Linked DNA regions of Homo sapiens. The main gene of each other region encodes a partner of the protein of the gene in region 2 in a complex. Each region holds a gene or a part of one and is shown on either strand. Other genes may lie near its edges. The genes, in order: GHRH and GHRHR.

The links.
Region 1: the proteins of GHRHR (region 2) and GHRH are in contact, whole or in part, in a cryo-EM structure (PDB 7CZ5), measured with the Homo sapiens proteins. Residues at the interface, in NP_000814.2 of Homo sapiens: Leu119, Ala120, Glu122, Glu123, Phe126, Ser127, Val129, Lys130, Tyr133, Val179, Lys182, Leu186, Phe187, Asp190, Thr192, Asp193, His194, Cys195, Phe197, His210, Thr213, Phe217, Ala271, Cys272, Asp274, Leu275, Asp276, Trp282, Ile285, Ile289; in NP_066567.1 of Homo sapiens: Tyr32, Ala33, Asp34, Ala35, Ile36, Phe37, Thr38, Asn39, Ser40, Tyr41, Arg42, Val44, Leu45, Gly46, Gln47, Leu48, Ser49, Ala50, Leu53.

What each region holds. Positions count from the first base shown.
Region 1 is NC_000020.11:37,258,598-37,266,322, forward strand, and holds the start of GHRH (somatoliberin isoform 1 preproprotein), read right to left. Parts: upstream 3,218-7,725; 5' UTR 3,146-3,217; intron 1-3,145. UniProt on the Homo sapiens protein: GRF is released by the hypothalamus and acts on the adenohypophyse to stimulate the secretion of growth hormone.
Region 2 is NC_000007.14:30,959,178-30,967,002, reverse strand, and holds the start of GHRHR (growth hormone-releasing hormone receptor precursor), read right to left. Parts: upstream 3,051-7,825; 5' UTR 2,935-3,050; coding exon 2,878-2,934; intron 1-2,877.

The DNA.
Region 1 (7,725 bases), on a different chromosome or scaffold from region 2:
GTCAGCCCCTCCCTCCATGACATGAGCATCCCCACAACACGCACACTGGCTGTCCTCCACTTCCTGCTCGAGTGAGCACTTGCTGCCAGCGAATGACAGGGATCTCACTACCCCCAGGCCCGGGAGCTTATTTCCAGATGGTTCTTTATTTATTTATTTTGAGAGCGGGTCTCACTCTGTGGCCCAGGCTGAGGTGCAGTGGTGCAATCATAGCTCACTACAGCCTCAAACTCCTGGGCTCAAGCAATCCTCCTGCCTCAGCCTCCTGAGTAGCTGGGACAGCAGGCATGTGCCATCATGCCCAGCTAATTTTGAAATTTTTTGTAAAGATAAAGTCTCACTATATTGCCGAGGCTGGTTTCAAACCCCCGGGCTTAAGTGATCCCCCCGCCTCAGCCTCCCAAAGAGTTGAGCTTATAGGCATGAGCCACAATGCCAGGCCCAGGCAGTTCTTATTGTTAGGAAGTTTGTCTCACCATGTCAAGCCCAAATCTCCTTCTCCTGCAAATGTTTGTTAAGCCTCTACTGTTCCGGTAAGGACTGGGGCTAGAGAAAAGATGAGAACACGGGATCTACCCCGAGGGCTGGCTGTGTAACATCCGCCTGCTGGGCTGGAGCCTCTGCACCTACAGCCACACGACTGGTCCTTTAGATATGTTCCGCATGTCTGACTTAAGCTTTTGTTCCTCAGACCAAGGCTCGGCAGGCTTCCGTCCTCCTCATCGCACCATACCACGTCTGGTCCCCCTTCTCCCCACCTGGTCCAGGCTGCCTCTCCAGAAGTGGAATTTCCTAAGCCGAGAGATCTCTGGATGCAAGCAGGGCCCCTTGACAGAAACCACTGCCTTTTCTGTCTCCCAGCTGCAGCCTGGCTTTCTTGCCTTCTTTGCTGCTGATCTTTTAAAGATTCAGGCAGATCTAGGTCCCCAATCACCTCCCTCCCCTGCTCAGAAGCCCTTGGCTCCCCACTCCTTCCAGAATAAAGCTCAAACCCCTTCTCTTGGCTTAAGCTCTCCCTCTGCCTGCCCCTTCTCCCAAGGGCTGGCACAAGTGATTCCCAGCCCCTGTGCCCTATCAGGCTCCACAACCCATCCTTGCACTCTCCCTCTGGAGCAGGCATCCCCATGCTCCTCTTACAGCCAAGGAAAAGAGCCTAGAGAGGACAAGGACATTTTCCATGATCCTCCATCAAATTAGTTTTGGAGTGGGCACTTCAGAGTGGGCCTCCTCATTCCCAGGCCGGCAGACTTCCTTCCGCTCCATGCAGCAGCCTCCCAGGTACAATGCTCTATTCACAGTATTCCCCATTCACAGGGATCCTCAGCCTCCATCACCTGCACGTGGGAAAGGGTCTGAAAAAAAGGAAAGCTTCTTGCTCTTTGTTGTTGGGCCTCTGGGGAAGAAAGAACAGGGACAAACAGGAACACCTGCTTGATTGGCCCCTCCCTATGCACACCCAGTAGTTTCAGGGAGTTGAAACAACCTCATAGGAGGGCAGACTTTGGTGGGGAGGGCAAGTCATAGTAAACACAATACCCCGCTCATTCAAGATAAGGCTCAGCAACTGCACAAGTTAACCAAGAGGCTCAACATTTGCCACAAATCCTGTGCCCCAGGCATAGGTCAAGACCCCACAGCAACCTCTGAGCTATGAGAACCGAATCCATGGGTTTGCAGATCCCACTGGATGAAAATGGGAAACAAGAATTATCCAGTGTAGGGTAAGATAAGAAGAATAGAGGTTATGTCACTAAGGATAAAATAGCTCCAGCCTGAGCAACATGGCGAGACCCCATCTCTACAAAAAAAAAAACACACAAAACAAAACAAAAAAAAACTTATCTAGGCATGGTGGCGCATGCCTGTAGTCCCAGCTACTCTGGAGGCTGATGTGGGAGGATTGCTTGAGCCCGGGAGGTTAAGGCTGCAGTGATCCATGATAGTGCCACTGCACAGTAGCCTAAATGTCAGAGCAAGACCCCATCTCAAAGAATAAAATAAAATAGCTGTCAACAGACACATTCCACATGACAACTTAAGGAGTCAAAATTCACTGAATGAAGTGTAGCCGAGCCCAACAGCATTGCTGGCAACCCTGATGACTGAAGGCACTCCAGAGTTTATAATCTATCATTATGATCATCGGTTAGCTTCCTGCAGTGCTTACTGATTCTGGGATTAGATGTACTTGAGATTGCCTGGATTCAGGATAAACGGGCACTTGATCTACATCCGTTGGCACCTTTTGCCAGCTTTCATGCCAGGAATGCCAGGAGAATTCTGCAGATTCACCTGCAGCTGACAGAGGTCAGGTCTCAAGCACCCAAATTCGCAAGGCCATTTTTGAAAACCCAGGGAAAGAACATCTTTAACCTTCCTTGAATATCCCCCTTTGAAATTTGAGCACCCCAAAGCATAGACTTCCTGATCTGGTTTATAAACTGTTTCAGTGACAGCATTCCAAGTTAAAAGAAATCTAAGTTTTTAATGAGGAAGCATCTTGAACTGTCATTCAAAAGAGTGACACTCCACCTCCTTCCAGAAGGGGTTTGAGGCAGTCTATGGTGAAAGACACAAATACTTCAGGACCATTAAAGCAAGGATCAGGAGACAGGCGTGGGGTAGCGGAGGACTCCAAAGGCAGATAATTGTGTCTAAAACCTGGAGTAAAGAGTGTGGCTGCAATTGAGCAAGAAAGCAAAATGTTATCAATTTCCCGGCAATTACATTGAATCAGTTCTGAGTGATCAATGAGCAGTATTGATTTGCACAGCCACTTGGCTCATCTCTGATCCATGGCAGAATCCCATCGCTGACAGGAAAATCGAGCCAACTCACGTTTGCCCCCGAAGCCTGCCCACGCATCCTCGAAGGAGCACTGAGACCTCACCACCTGCGACAGACACCTGGAGCCAGTCCGCCACGCGCCCAAGTTAAGACAAGCCCCAAACAGCACCATCAAAAGCCTATTCCAGAGCCCCTATTGAGGGGTGATTTTATCCAGAGAGGGGCTCAAATGTACTCACCAGTCCATGGGCAAAGAGGATGGCGGTGGGCCTCTTGGACTCAGTGTTTCTAAGTTGGTGAGAAGGTTAACTTTTCTTACCCCCACCCAGCCTAGCCCCCCCAGGGCCACCCCTCTCACCTGATGCGGCAGATATCCCTCTGCTCCGAGGCACTGCTCAAATCCAGGGGCCCTGGGCTGGGTGTTTGCTCTGGCAGCCGCCTGGCGTTCCCATCATTTATCTCTTCATTTTCCTAAGCGTTGTCAGCGTCAGAGAATCAATTACCCACAAGTCAACCAAAGGACTGTTTTTAGCATCATATCACACTGACAAACCCTGTTGGTGAAAGAGGTTTGGCCCCTTGCAGACTTAGACTCCTGGTAAAGTCTCCTTTTATCTTTGGCACAGTGGACATAGTACAAAGGTGTAACATTATTCCAAGAGGATATAGAGAATATATACTGCTATAATAGTGATTGGAGAACTCGGCTGGGCGCGGTGGCTCACACCTGCCATCCTAGCACTTTGGGAGGCTGAGGCGGGTGGATTGCCTGAGCTCAGAAGTTTGAGACCAACCTGGGCAACATAATGAGACCCTGTCTCTAGAAAAAAATTAAAAATTAGCTGGGCATGTTGGCACATGGGTATAGTCCCAGCTACTCAGGTGGCTGAGGCAAGAGTGTCACCTGAGCCTGGGAGGCGGAGGTTGCAGTGAGCCAAGACCACGCTATGGCACTCCAGCCTGGGTGACAGAGCACGACTCTATCTCAAAATATATATTTTTTAAAAAAAGAAAAAATATGTGTTAAAAATAATTGGAGAACTCATAACAGTGAAACACCAAGAGTTTATTGATTCTCCAAGATAAATGTGCCTTTTCAAAAGTTCATATAATTTAGCTTTGTCCCTGTGTAATTTTATTTCACTTTTGGGTAGACAACATTATGAATAAGCGTTATTCTCTCCTTAGTGGGGAATTTGTTCCCTATCTCCCTTGTCGTCCAATTATCAGAATTCTGCACTATTTGATTTACACCTGCTTGGTCACAGGCTGATTTCAACAGCTAGCCTGGGGGCATCCGTCGTCACCTGTCAAGGCAGCCAGACATTGGCAGTTGCCTCAGAGAAGTGTGAAATGAGAGGGAAGAGATGGAAAACCTTGGGAGAGTTGTTGTGTTTCCAGATTTCTCTAGCCTATAGCTAAGAAATCCTCAGGAATGACATAAAAGCACAGGAGGCAGAAGCTCTGGTTTCCCAGGCGGCCGTCGTGGAGGTGTGGAAAGAGCTCCAAGCCTCGAGTCTAGGGACCTGCTGCCTCTCCCAAGCCTGTCAATCATGACCTCTGTGACCCTTAGGAAGTTACTTCTACCTGGCTGGGTGCAGTGGCTCACACCTGTAATCCCAGCACTTTGGGAGGCTGAGGCGGGTGGATCATGAGGTCAGGGGTTCGAGACCAGCCTGACCAACATGGTGAAACCCCGTCTCTACTAAAAATACAAAAATTAGCTGGGTGTGGTAGTGGGCACCTGTAATCCCAGCTACTCAGGAGGCTGAGGCAGGAGAATTGCTTGAACCCGGGAGGTGGAGGTTGCAGTGAGCCGAGATCGTGCCACTGCACTCCAGCCTGGGCGACAGAGCGAGACTCTGTCTCAAAAAAAGAAAAAAAACTTCTACCCTCCGGGCCTCAGTTTCTACCTGGAAACTTGAGAGTTGACATAGAACAGCAACTTTCAAACTATTTTTTTGAGAGGGATCCTATCTTTGCCACCCAGGTTGGAGTGCAGTGGCATAATCTCGACTCATTGCAACCTCCACCTCCCGGGTTCAAATGATTCTCCTGCCTTAGCCTCCAGAGTAGCTGGGATTACAGGTGCGTACCACCACGCCTGGCTAAGTTTTGTATTTTAGTAGAGATGGGATTTCACCATGTTGGCCAGGTTGGTCTCAAACTTCTGACCTCAGGTGATCCACGTGCTTCTGCCTCCCAAAGCACTGGGATGACAGGTGTGAGCCACCACACCCAGCCCAAACATTTTTTAAAAAGTAGCAAAACTCTTTCTTTGGAAACCTACAGAGACAGGTTTTTAATATGGGGCTACTCTGGTTGAAGAGGGGGAAGTGGAGACCCCCTTGCCTATCCCTGAGGTACCTCGATGGGTCACAATTACAAGCCAGTAATTTCCAAGAGTCCCCTTAGCAACACTATTTTGTGGTTCTCCTTCTTAGCCTGCACTGAGCCATGTTCTTGGCATCTAGCAAATATGAGATGTTTCTCATAGAAGCAAGGCTTGAGTGGTATGTCACCTTGCTGGCCAGGATACGAAGTGGTCAGGTCAGGCCAGATCCCCAAGGATTAAGAATGGGCTGATAGTGGCCAGGTGCGGTGGCTCATGCCTGTAACCCCAGCACTTTGGGAGGCCGAGGCAGGCGGACTGCCTGAGCTCAGGAGTTCGTGACCACTCTGGGCAACATGGTGAAACCCCGTCTCTACTAAAATACAAAAAAATTAGCTGGGTGTAGTGGCATGTGCCTGTAATCCCAGCTACTGGGGAGGCTGAGGCACAAGAATAGCTTAAGCCCCAGAGGCAGAGGTTGGTGTGAGCCGAGATGGCGCCGCTGCACTTCAGCTTGAACAACAGAGTGAGACTCTGTCTCAAAAAAAAAAATAAATAAAAACAGGGCGTGGTGGTTCACGTCTGTAATCCCAGCACCTTGGGAGGCTGAGGCGGGCGGCTCACGAGGTCAGGAGATCGAGATCATTCTGGCTAACATGGTGAAATCCCGTCTCTATTAAAAATACAAAAAATTAGCCGGGCGTGGTGGTGGGTGCCTGTGGTCCCAGCTACTCGGGAGGCTGAGGCAGAAGAATGGCTCAGGACCCAGGAGGCGGAGCTTGCAGTGAACCAAGATGGTGCCACTGCACTCCAGCCTGGGTGACAGAGTGAGACTCCGTCTCAAAAAAATAAATAAAATAAATAAATAAATAAAAATAAAAATAAAAATAAATGGGTTGATAGCTTTAAATTAATTATTATTATTATTATTTTATTTACTTAATTTTTTGGAGACAGGGTCTCGCTCAGGCTAGAGTGTAGTGGTGAGATCTCAGCTCACTGCAGCCTTGACCTCCTAGGCTCAAGCAGTCCCCAACCTCAGCCTCCTGAGTAGCTGGGACTGCAGTTGCACGCCACCATGCCCAGCTAATTTTGTTTATTTTTAGTAGAGATGAGATCTCACTATGTTGTCCTGGCCAGAACTCAAATATTATTTAAAAAAAAAAAGTGCAGGTCACAGCAGCAGGGAGCAGACGAAGCAGTTGGGAGCCCCAGGGCTATGGGCTCTCGCACAGTCAGGAAGTGTGGGGTAACTCCTGGAAATGCAAAGTGGGGACCATGCAGAGCTGGGCACCCAGAGTGGACGCTGGTCCAGGGCACAGATGCAGGTTACATGGAGTTGGCCGGAGAAGCCATGGGGCTCAGAATCCAGCCTCGGTTGAAACTCTGTGCCAGGCATTGTGCTACAGACTTCACGCCCTATCTCAGTTTTCTTATTTGTAAAATGGGAGTGATAGAGCTCAACTTATGAGGCTCTTGGGTGAGAATTATTGTGACATTGCATAAAGGGCAGACCTGGCATAGGGCAGAGCTCACAATTTAGCTTTGATAATTGCTGTTCTTGTCATTGCGGTAAATGAGGAAACAGGCATGAAAGGTTACGTGCTCAGCCACAGCCACAGAGCTAGTCAGTAGCTGGAAGAGCTATGACTCAAACATGTTTTCTGACTTCCTTACAGCCCCAGCTACTCAGGAGGCTGAGGCAGGAGGATCACTTGAGCCCAGGAGTTAGAGGCTGCAGTGAGCTATGTTCGTGCTTCCGTACTCCAGCCTGGGCAATGGAGTGACACCTTGTCTCTATTGAAAAAAAAAGGAAAAAAAAGTTTTCTGATTTCCAATTTGTTTGCCCCACACTAAGGCCCTTCCTGGGCCTACCAGTTCTAATTTTTTTTTTTTTTTTTTTAAAAAGAACTTCAACAGTTTGGCCGGGCGTGGTGGCTTACACCTGTAATCTCAGCACTTTGGGAGGCCGAGGCAGGCGGATTGCCTGAGGTCAGGAGTTCGAGACCAATCTGGCCAACATGGTGAGACCCTGTCTCTACTAAAAATACAAAAAAATTAGGCGGGCGTGGTGGCATGCGCCTGTAATCCCAGCTACTCGGGAGGCTGAGGCAGGGGAATTGCTTGAACCAGGGAGGTGGAGGTTGCAGGGAGCCAAGATCGCGCCACTGTGCTCCATCTTGGGCGACAGAGGGAGACTCCATCTAAAAAACAAATAAACAAACAAAAAAGAGTTAACATATCATAAAGCTCACTGGTTTTAAGTCTATGGCTCCATGAGCTTTCATACATTTATACGGTGGTGCCACCATTGCCACAATCCTGTTTTGGAATGCTTCTGTCCCTCCAAAAATTCCCTCTAGCCCATTTGCTCTCAGTCTCCACTCTTGCCCCCTGCCCTAGGCAACCCCTAATCTGCTGTCTTACAGTTTTTCCTTTGCTAGGAAATTCCTATAAATGGAATCTTTTATATGATGAGTAAATCATAATAAATCAAATAAAATACGCACTTTTTGGTGTCAGGCTTCTTTCACTCAGCATAATGTTTGACCTTCATCCATGTTGATCCAGGTATTAATAGTTTGTTCCTTTTTATTCCATTGTAT
Region 2 (7,825 bases):
GAAGGGAGAAGGGCTGGATCCTAATAGACCCTGCGCAAACTGTGATCAGAAGCAGGACAGGGGCCGGGCGCAGTGGCTCATGCCTGTAATCCCAGCACTTTGGGAGGCCAAGGTAGGCGGATCACCTGACGTCAGGAGTTAAACACCAGCCTGACCAATGTGGCAAAACACTATCTCTACAAAAATACAAAAATTAGCTGGGTGTGATGACACGCTCCTGTAATCCCAGCTACTCAGGAGGCTGAGGCAGGAGAATCACTTGAACCCAGGAGGCGGAGGTTACAGTGAGCTGAGATTGTGCCACTGTACTCCAGCCTGGGCGATAAAGTGAGACTCCATCTCAGAAAAACAAAAAAAAAACAAAAAGAAGCAAGACAGGTACCATGGGAGGGAATGTCCCTCTCACAGGGATTGGGGAGGTGGCATTTGAGCTGGACCTGGGGACAAGGGAGCATTTTTTAGAGCCAGACACACACAGTGGGGAGAAGAGCATCTGGAACAGAAAGCACAGCATGTGCAAGGACAAGGGAAGTGGGAAAAGGTGTATTTGGGAAGTATCAGCTCAGGACTAATGTTTCTCTCCCCATGGCCCCCACCCCCACCCCACACACACACACCCTCAATGTCTAGCAGGATCCATGTCAGCAAATGTTTAATTAACAGCTAGTGTTCTTTGGGAGAAATGCAGGCACAGCAAATAGTGTAGCAGATGTAAGACCAGGGCTGGGGTCAGAGAGTAGAGACTTTGACCACCAGAGTGGGGACAATAGATGGTGGGTGACCACGTGGAGAGACCCGAGAGCTCTGCCGCAGATTTGTGGGATAGGAGAAAATCTGGAGAGCCAGCCCAGTAAGGAGGGTCACCCCCACCAGTGCTACCCTGGCAGGAGAAGTCACTCCTGTCCCGCCCTGCTGACCCCATGGGTCCATGGCTTGGACGCAGCTCTGCCATCTCCTGCCTGGCCCTGCAAGGCCCCAGGGTGCAGATGTCACCCACTACCCAGGCTCCAGGTCTTATTTTGGTGGGTGCCCCGGACTCAGCTCTTGGCTTCCTCCCGAGGACTCAGTAACCTCAGGTCCATCTCAGGGCAGAGCCCCGTTGCGTCTCCCCTACATCTCCCAACAGACTGAGCGCACAAAGCGGGGAAGGAAGAGCAGGAGGGCAGATGGGCCTGTATGGGACTTTCTCACACCATCAGCCTGATATTGACCCTGGGCTGTTGGAAGAGCTGTGGTCTCTGCCTATCCTTCTGCCTACTGCACAGTCTGGCAAGCCCCAACCCTGCCTGGGAAACTTTTCAGGGCCAATTTGGGGAAGCAACTGAGGGCAAAGGATGCCAGGAGAGCAGCCTCATGCCAAAAGGATGAACAGACAGTGCCCACACCTCTAAGAGAAGGAGGGAAATTCAGAGAAGCCCCACTAATGACTCAGGATGTGTGGGCATAGGGCCAGATGTAAGGAGAGATTCTAGGGAGGGAAGTGGTGGGAGTGGAAGGATAGATCGTTCTAAGATTTATCCAAATGCTCCTGCTGAATTAGGACTGGCGAAACACATCCTGGGGCTCCCAGTCACCCCCCCACACACATCGTGGACCCCACCCACCCCTGAGGGGAGGCTCCATCGCCCTGGACCCCCAGGCCTTGCATCTATGCCTGCTGCTCTTCCTGGTATCTGCAGGGGATGATGCCCACACTGGCAAACAGTGATTGAGTTCTAGCTTTGGTACTAGCACCATCTGCTGAATGGCCACCACCAGATCTTGGGTACCCCTGCTAAAAATAAAGCTTTTGCTGTAGAGTGCACACAGATGGCAGACAGGGGGGCAGTCGAAGTTTCCTGTGTTGCACCCCTATGCCCAGCCCTTGACAAATCAGATTCCACTCAATGCACAGTGACCCGGGCCAGCGGATATTTTCTCTTTTAACAAAAGAGATAAAAGCAAGACTCAGGAAGGCTGAGGAACTTGCAGTTCACACGGCTAGTTTCATGCGTCCAGGATTCAAGCTCAAAGCCTGTGCACTCAGGAGCAGGTGCAGCAAGGTGCTCGGGAGGGGCAGCACCCTCCAATAAGGCAGCGGAGGAAGAATGCTTCAGGCCCTCACCATCCCAGAACCTTGTGACTCCCAGCCTGGTCCCTGCTGTCACTTGCAGTAACCTCCTGGAAAGTTACTGGGAAACTGCAGCCCATTCAGGAAGGGCCCTCTCTCCTGATGCCCCGTGCTCCAGCGCTCTAGCCCATGGAGTACAATTTGGTTGCCAAAAGCCTCTCCAGCCCTCAGCATCGTGAGAAGATGATGGATCCCCTAAGTGCTGGAGCAGAAGCAGCTGGTCTCCACCAACTCCTTAGGTTCCATTCCTTCCCTGGCCACACCCTCTTCAAAGGAAACCACCAAACTGGAGAGTGGCTCAGGGAGTCATAGGGCTAAGGAAGGGTCCAGAAAGCTTACCACAGGAGCGTGTGGAAGCATCACAGGTGCACAGCTGAGAGAAAGAGCAAACTGCAGGGACTAAGAGGGGAGCCTGACTTTGCCTCACCAATTCTGAGGCACTGTCTTGTGGCAGACAGAGTCTCTGTGGCCCCCAGAGGCACAGCCAGGCCCTGGGGGAAGCAACAAGAAGGTGAGCTCAGCTCAGCCCCTGGAAGGACATGTTAATAGCACTACCCAGAGTCACTACAGATTGCTGGGCAGAGGGAGATGAGGGAGGGAGCCCCAGTGTCAGGGGCTCTCCAAGCCACAGCCTGCCACCTGCTCGTAGGGAGGGACTCTAGAGCAGGAGAAGGGCAGTAGGGTCTCCGCCAGGCTCCAGTTGGCCCTGTGGCTCCCAAATCTGGAGCCCAGTGGCAGAGGCCAGAGGGTCTCAGCTGGCTACTCACGGTCGGTAACGGGCTCAACACGCAGAAGACGTGGGCCCCCCACATCCGGCGGTCCATGGTGAGCCCAGCAGTGGCTCCCTCCACCAGCCTCAGTAAGCCTTGGCTATCTTCCTTCCCCTGCTGTCCCCTGACACAGCCGTTTCCACCGCACCCTCTGCTTCCCCTTCTCAGGTGGCTGTTTGCATAGGCAGGAGCTAGCCAAGGGGACACAGACCGCTGAATATTCACCAGGATTGCAGGACACCTGCCCAGCTCAGCATTGACCCTGAGGTGGGACTCTGTTTCCAGCAGGCAGGGGCTGAGCCCCCACCCTCATCGCCTTCTACTCTGGCTATAAGTCTGCTTGTGTGTCTGTCCTGATAGCAAGGGCCCAGAGAGGTGACAGCCACAGGTCACTTGGTCAATATTCTCTACCACTTTCTTCTCTAAGCCCAGGTCTCTGGTGGCCATCATTGGAGTGACCCCTCAGATTGATGGGATCTTAAAGAATAGGAAGGGGACCTGGGCCTGCCCTTGGGAAGCTCCCAGGTTATTTGATGTGTGCTCCTAGCCTCATCCACAGGGCTGGAGAGTGAGGTCAGAGCTGTGTGGAACTGGTGGGGAAGGGGAAGGGTATGGTATTAGTGGAGATGGAGGGTTGGAATGGTCTTAGGAAAGGAAGTATGATCTGTAAGCACTGGCATGGGCTGGCCAGGAATGTGTCATTTCAGCAAGACCTGGGTCCTTTACTGGGCAAGGACGCTGGCCTGGATGGTGAGCTGAAGCTGCAAGCATCAAGGCTCTGGATTTCACATGGGGGCTTATCAAAATCTCTCCAAAACTCTCACGGCAAAAGGGGAAAATGAGGTTGGTTGGAAGCCTTGTGAAGGATTCATGGGTCAAGCCATCTTGAATAGGGGGAGGACAACTCTCATCGGTAGCAGAAATGAGAAGACTTACACAGCAAACTATATTGAACATTCATTGCCTGGTCACTTTTATTATAGTTTTAGACTTTAAAATGCAGGGTCTCCATTGGCCAGGCTAAAGACAGTGTTCTAAATGCCCCTGGATCTTGCACAGCACTTTGAAATGTCAAAGATGTCACCTCTGAAAGACCTGAATATCCCAGTAGCCGACAGGTCCTGATGTTTGTGTGCACGTCTCCACTCACAGAAGCTGCTGGGCTGCGTGCTAGAACACCAGACATGTTTACAGCCCGATCACATCATGAATGTTGAAGGCTCCTCGCCCCCGCTACATCTGGATTTAGGGCTTATTTTGACATCAGCAGGGGTTTATTTTTCCATTTTTCTTCATTGTCAACAAAATACTGAAAAAAAAATATTTCGAAACAAAAACATGAACCACCCCAAGCTCCAAAACCCTCCTATCCTGTGCAAGTGTTTTCATGAGCTTAACTGTGAAATGGGTGCAAGCAGCATGCCACACAGAGCTCTGCACACTTTTACACTTTTAGGGGAGAGCAGAGCTCCTCTCTTGGCAGGCTGAGAGCTCACGGGTTGGAAAAGCAGAGTGCTGAAAAGGTATAACTTGAAGGGAAAGCTAGAACCTTCTGTTCCTCAGCTACAAAGAAGCAACAGCACCAGGAAAAAAAAGTCTTACGATTAATCACTGTTGATAATTAGCATCAATATCATTAGCATTAATGATGGCTAATTATTGAGGTTGATAGTGATAATTAATAATAGTTATTACTGTCTAAACGAGTGGTTCCTAACCTGGAGCAATTTTGCTTCCCTAGGGGACATTTGGCAATGTCTGGAGACATTTTTTGTTATCAAAATAAAAACTAGGAGTTAGGGTGAGGAGTGGGGTGGTGAGTTGCTCCTGGTATCGAATGAGTAGAGACCAGGGATGCTATTAAGCATCTACAATGCACAGGATGCCCCCACCCTTGATCATATGAAGAATTATCCAGTCTCAAAGATCAATAAGACCAAGGCTGAGAAACCCTGCTCTAACTGTACATGTTCCCCAAGGATCCCTGCAGGCCTGTTTCTTCATGGAGCTGTCTTCTCTAGCTAATTCTGTATACACTCAGGATTCAAATTCTGCCTCCATCACTTGCTAGCTGTCATACATTTGGCAAGTCATTTAGCCTTTCTGAACCTCTGTGTTAGTACATTTGTATTGCTATAAGGGAATACCCAAGGCTTGGTATTATATTTTTAAAAAGAGGTTTATTGCGGCTCACAGTTCTGCAGACTGCACAGGAAGCATGGCACTGGCATCTGCTTCTGGTGAGGGCCTCAAGAAGCTTCCATTCATGCTGGAAGGTGAAGGGGGAACCCCTGGTGTATCACATGGTGAGAGAGGGAGCAAGAGAGCAAGGGAGATGTCTGGCTGGCTCTTTAAAACTACTAACTCTTGCATGAACTAGCAGAGTGAGAACTCACTCATTACCATGGGGAGGGCACCAAGCCATTCATGAGGGACCCACCCCCATGACGCAAACACCTCCCACCAGGCCCCACCTCCAACAATGCAGGTCTATTTCAACATAAGATTTGGAGAGAACAAAACATTCAAACCATATGAGCCTCCGTTTTCCCATCTGAAAAGTGGGGATGATACTAACACCTTCCTTATAGGATTGGTGGGATAAGTGGACAAGGAAAGCCGTGTACTATAAAGAACCTCATACAGAGCCTAGATCCAGTGGGCAATCATTTATGACAGCATGTAACAAAGATGGACTAACAGCAAGTAAGATTGGAACAGCTGATTCTTTGTACAAAAAAATAAGATTGAATCTCTAGCTCACATTTACAAAATATAGATTCTAGGTTAAAAATCCTAATTATAAAACAACAAAATCATAAAAATGCTTCAAAAAATAGAAATTCATGTTTATGGCCTTAGAATAAAGGAGAGTGTCATATAAAATAAAAATCGTAAAGAAAAAAATCAAGTGTGACCACATTAACATTTTAAAATGTATGTTCAAGAGAGGATGCCATAGATGAAAACTAAAAGCATTTTTCTGCTACAAACTGAAAGAAATATTTGCAACCAATCCTGACAAACAAATCTGTAGTATCAAAAATGTATTTTAAAAATATCTAAAAATCAGCTGGTCGTGGTGGCTCACGCCAGTAATCCCAGCACTTTGGGAGGCCAAGGCGGGCGGATCACCAGGTCAGCCTGGCCAATATGGTGAACCCTTGTCTCTACTGAAAATACAAAAATTAGCCAGGCCTGGTGGTGCACAACTGTAGTTCCAGCTACTCAGGAGGCTGAGGCAGGAGAATCCCTTGAACCTGGGAGGTGGAGTCTGCAGTAAGCCAAGATCGTGCCACTGCACTCCAGCCTGGGCAACAGAGTGAGACTATGTCACAAAAAAAAAAAGAAAGAAGAGAAAAAAATCAGTAAGAAAGATAAAAATAACTCAGAAAAGTGAGCAAATGATACAAATAGACAATTCAGAAAAGAAGTGAAATATACAGGCCAATAAACAGATGAAGAAATGTTTAACATTCCTAATACTAAAGAATATGAAAATAAAAATAATAATAAGCTACCCATTTTCACCTAATACATTGCCTAAAACTTTAATGTCTGATAACACAGTGTCTGGAAGATAATGTAAAGAAATGGGAGCATTCATAAATGGCAGATGAGAGTGAATTTTGTATAACCACTTTGAAAAACAATTTGATATTATCTAATGAATTTAAGAATGAACATACCCTATAAGCCAGAAATTCCAGTTCTGGGTATTTGCGTTCTGAGTTCAGTGTTGTTTATAACATGTAGTAAAAACCAGAAAACAACACAATTGTCCAATGAGAAAGGAATAGCTAAACAAAATGTGATCTATTCATACAATGGAATACTACTGAGCGGTTAAAAGGTATGAACTAAATCTATTTGTACAAGAGGATTTCACAAAGTTCATGGAAATATGGAATTAAAAAATAAAAAATATAAACTTTATTTCTCAACATAAGCTTTCAAGACACTTTTGTAAGCAATGATACCAACCATGTAATCCATCCCTAAAACACTGAGAGTCCTGGGAATTTAGCCATGTCAATGCAGTCTTTTTTACATTACTACCTAAAGAAAAATGAGTGCCCTTAAAAGATTTTTTAAGATTAGAAAACAAAAAGACATCATGAAAAGCCAAATCATGGCTGTGAGGTGGATGTGTAATGATTTCCTATCAAAACTCTCGCAAAACTGGCCTTGTTTGATGAGAAGAATGAACAGGAGTATTGTGGTGGTGGAGAAGGATTCTCTAGTGAAGGTTTCCTGGGCATTTTTCTGCTAAAGCTTTGGCTATCTCAAAACATTTTCACAATAAGCAGATGTTATCGTTCTTTGGCTCCCCAGAAAGTCAACCTGCAAAATACCTCAAGCATCCCCAAAACTGTTTTCATCATGAATTTTGCTCTTGACCGGTCTGCTTTTGCTTTGACAGGACCACTTCTACCTCTTTGTAGTCATTGCTTTGATCATGCTTTGTCTTCAACATTGTACTGGCAAAGCCATCCTTCATCTTCTCTTACAAATCTTTGAAGAAATGTTTCAGGATCTTGACCTACTTGTTTAAAATTTCTGCTGAAATCTCTGCTCGTGTCTCCAGTTGATCTGGGTGCAATGCTTTTGGCAACCATCAGTTGGGAAGTTTGCCCAACTTTAATTTTTCTGCTGGAATTGTGTAGAGTGAACTGATTGAGATGTCTATGGTGTTGGCTATTGTTTCTGCCATTAATCATCAGTCCTCTTCAATTAGGGAATGACCAAATTAATTCTTTTCCTCACAAATTGATGTGGATGGTCTGCTGCTACAGGCTTTTTTTTTTTTTTTTTTTTTTTGAGACGGAGTCTTGCTCTGTTGCCCAGGCTGGAGTGCAGTGGCGCGATCTCGACTCACTGTAAGCTCCGCCTCCCGGGTTCACGCCATTCTCCTGCCTCAGCCTCCCGAGTAGCTGGGACTACA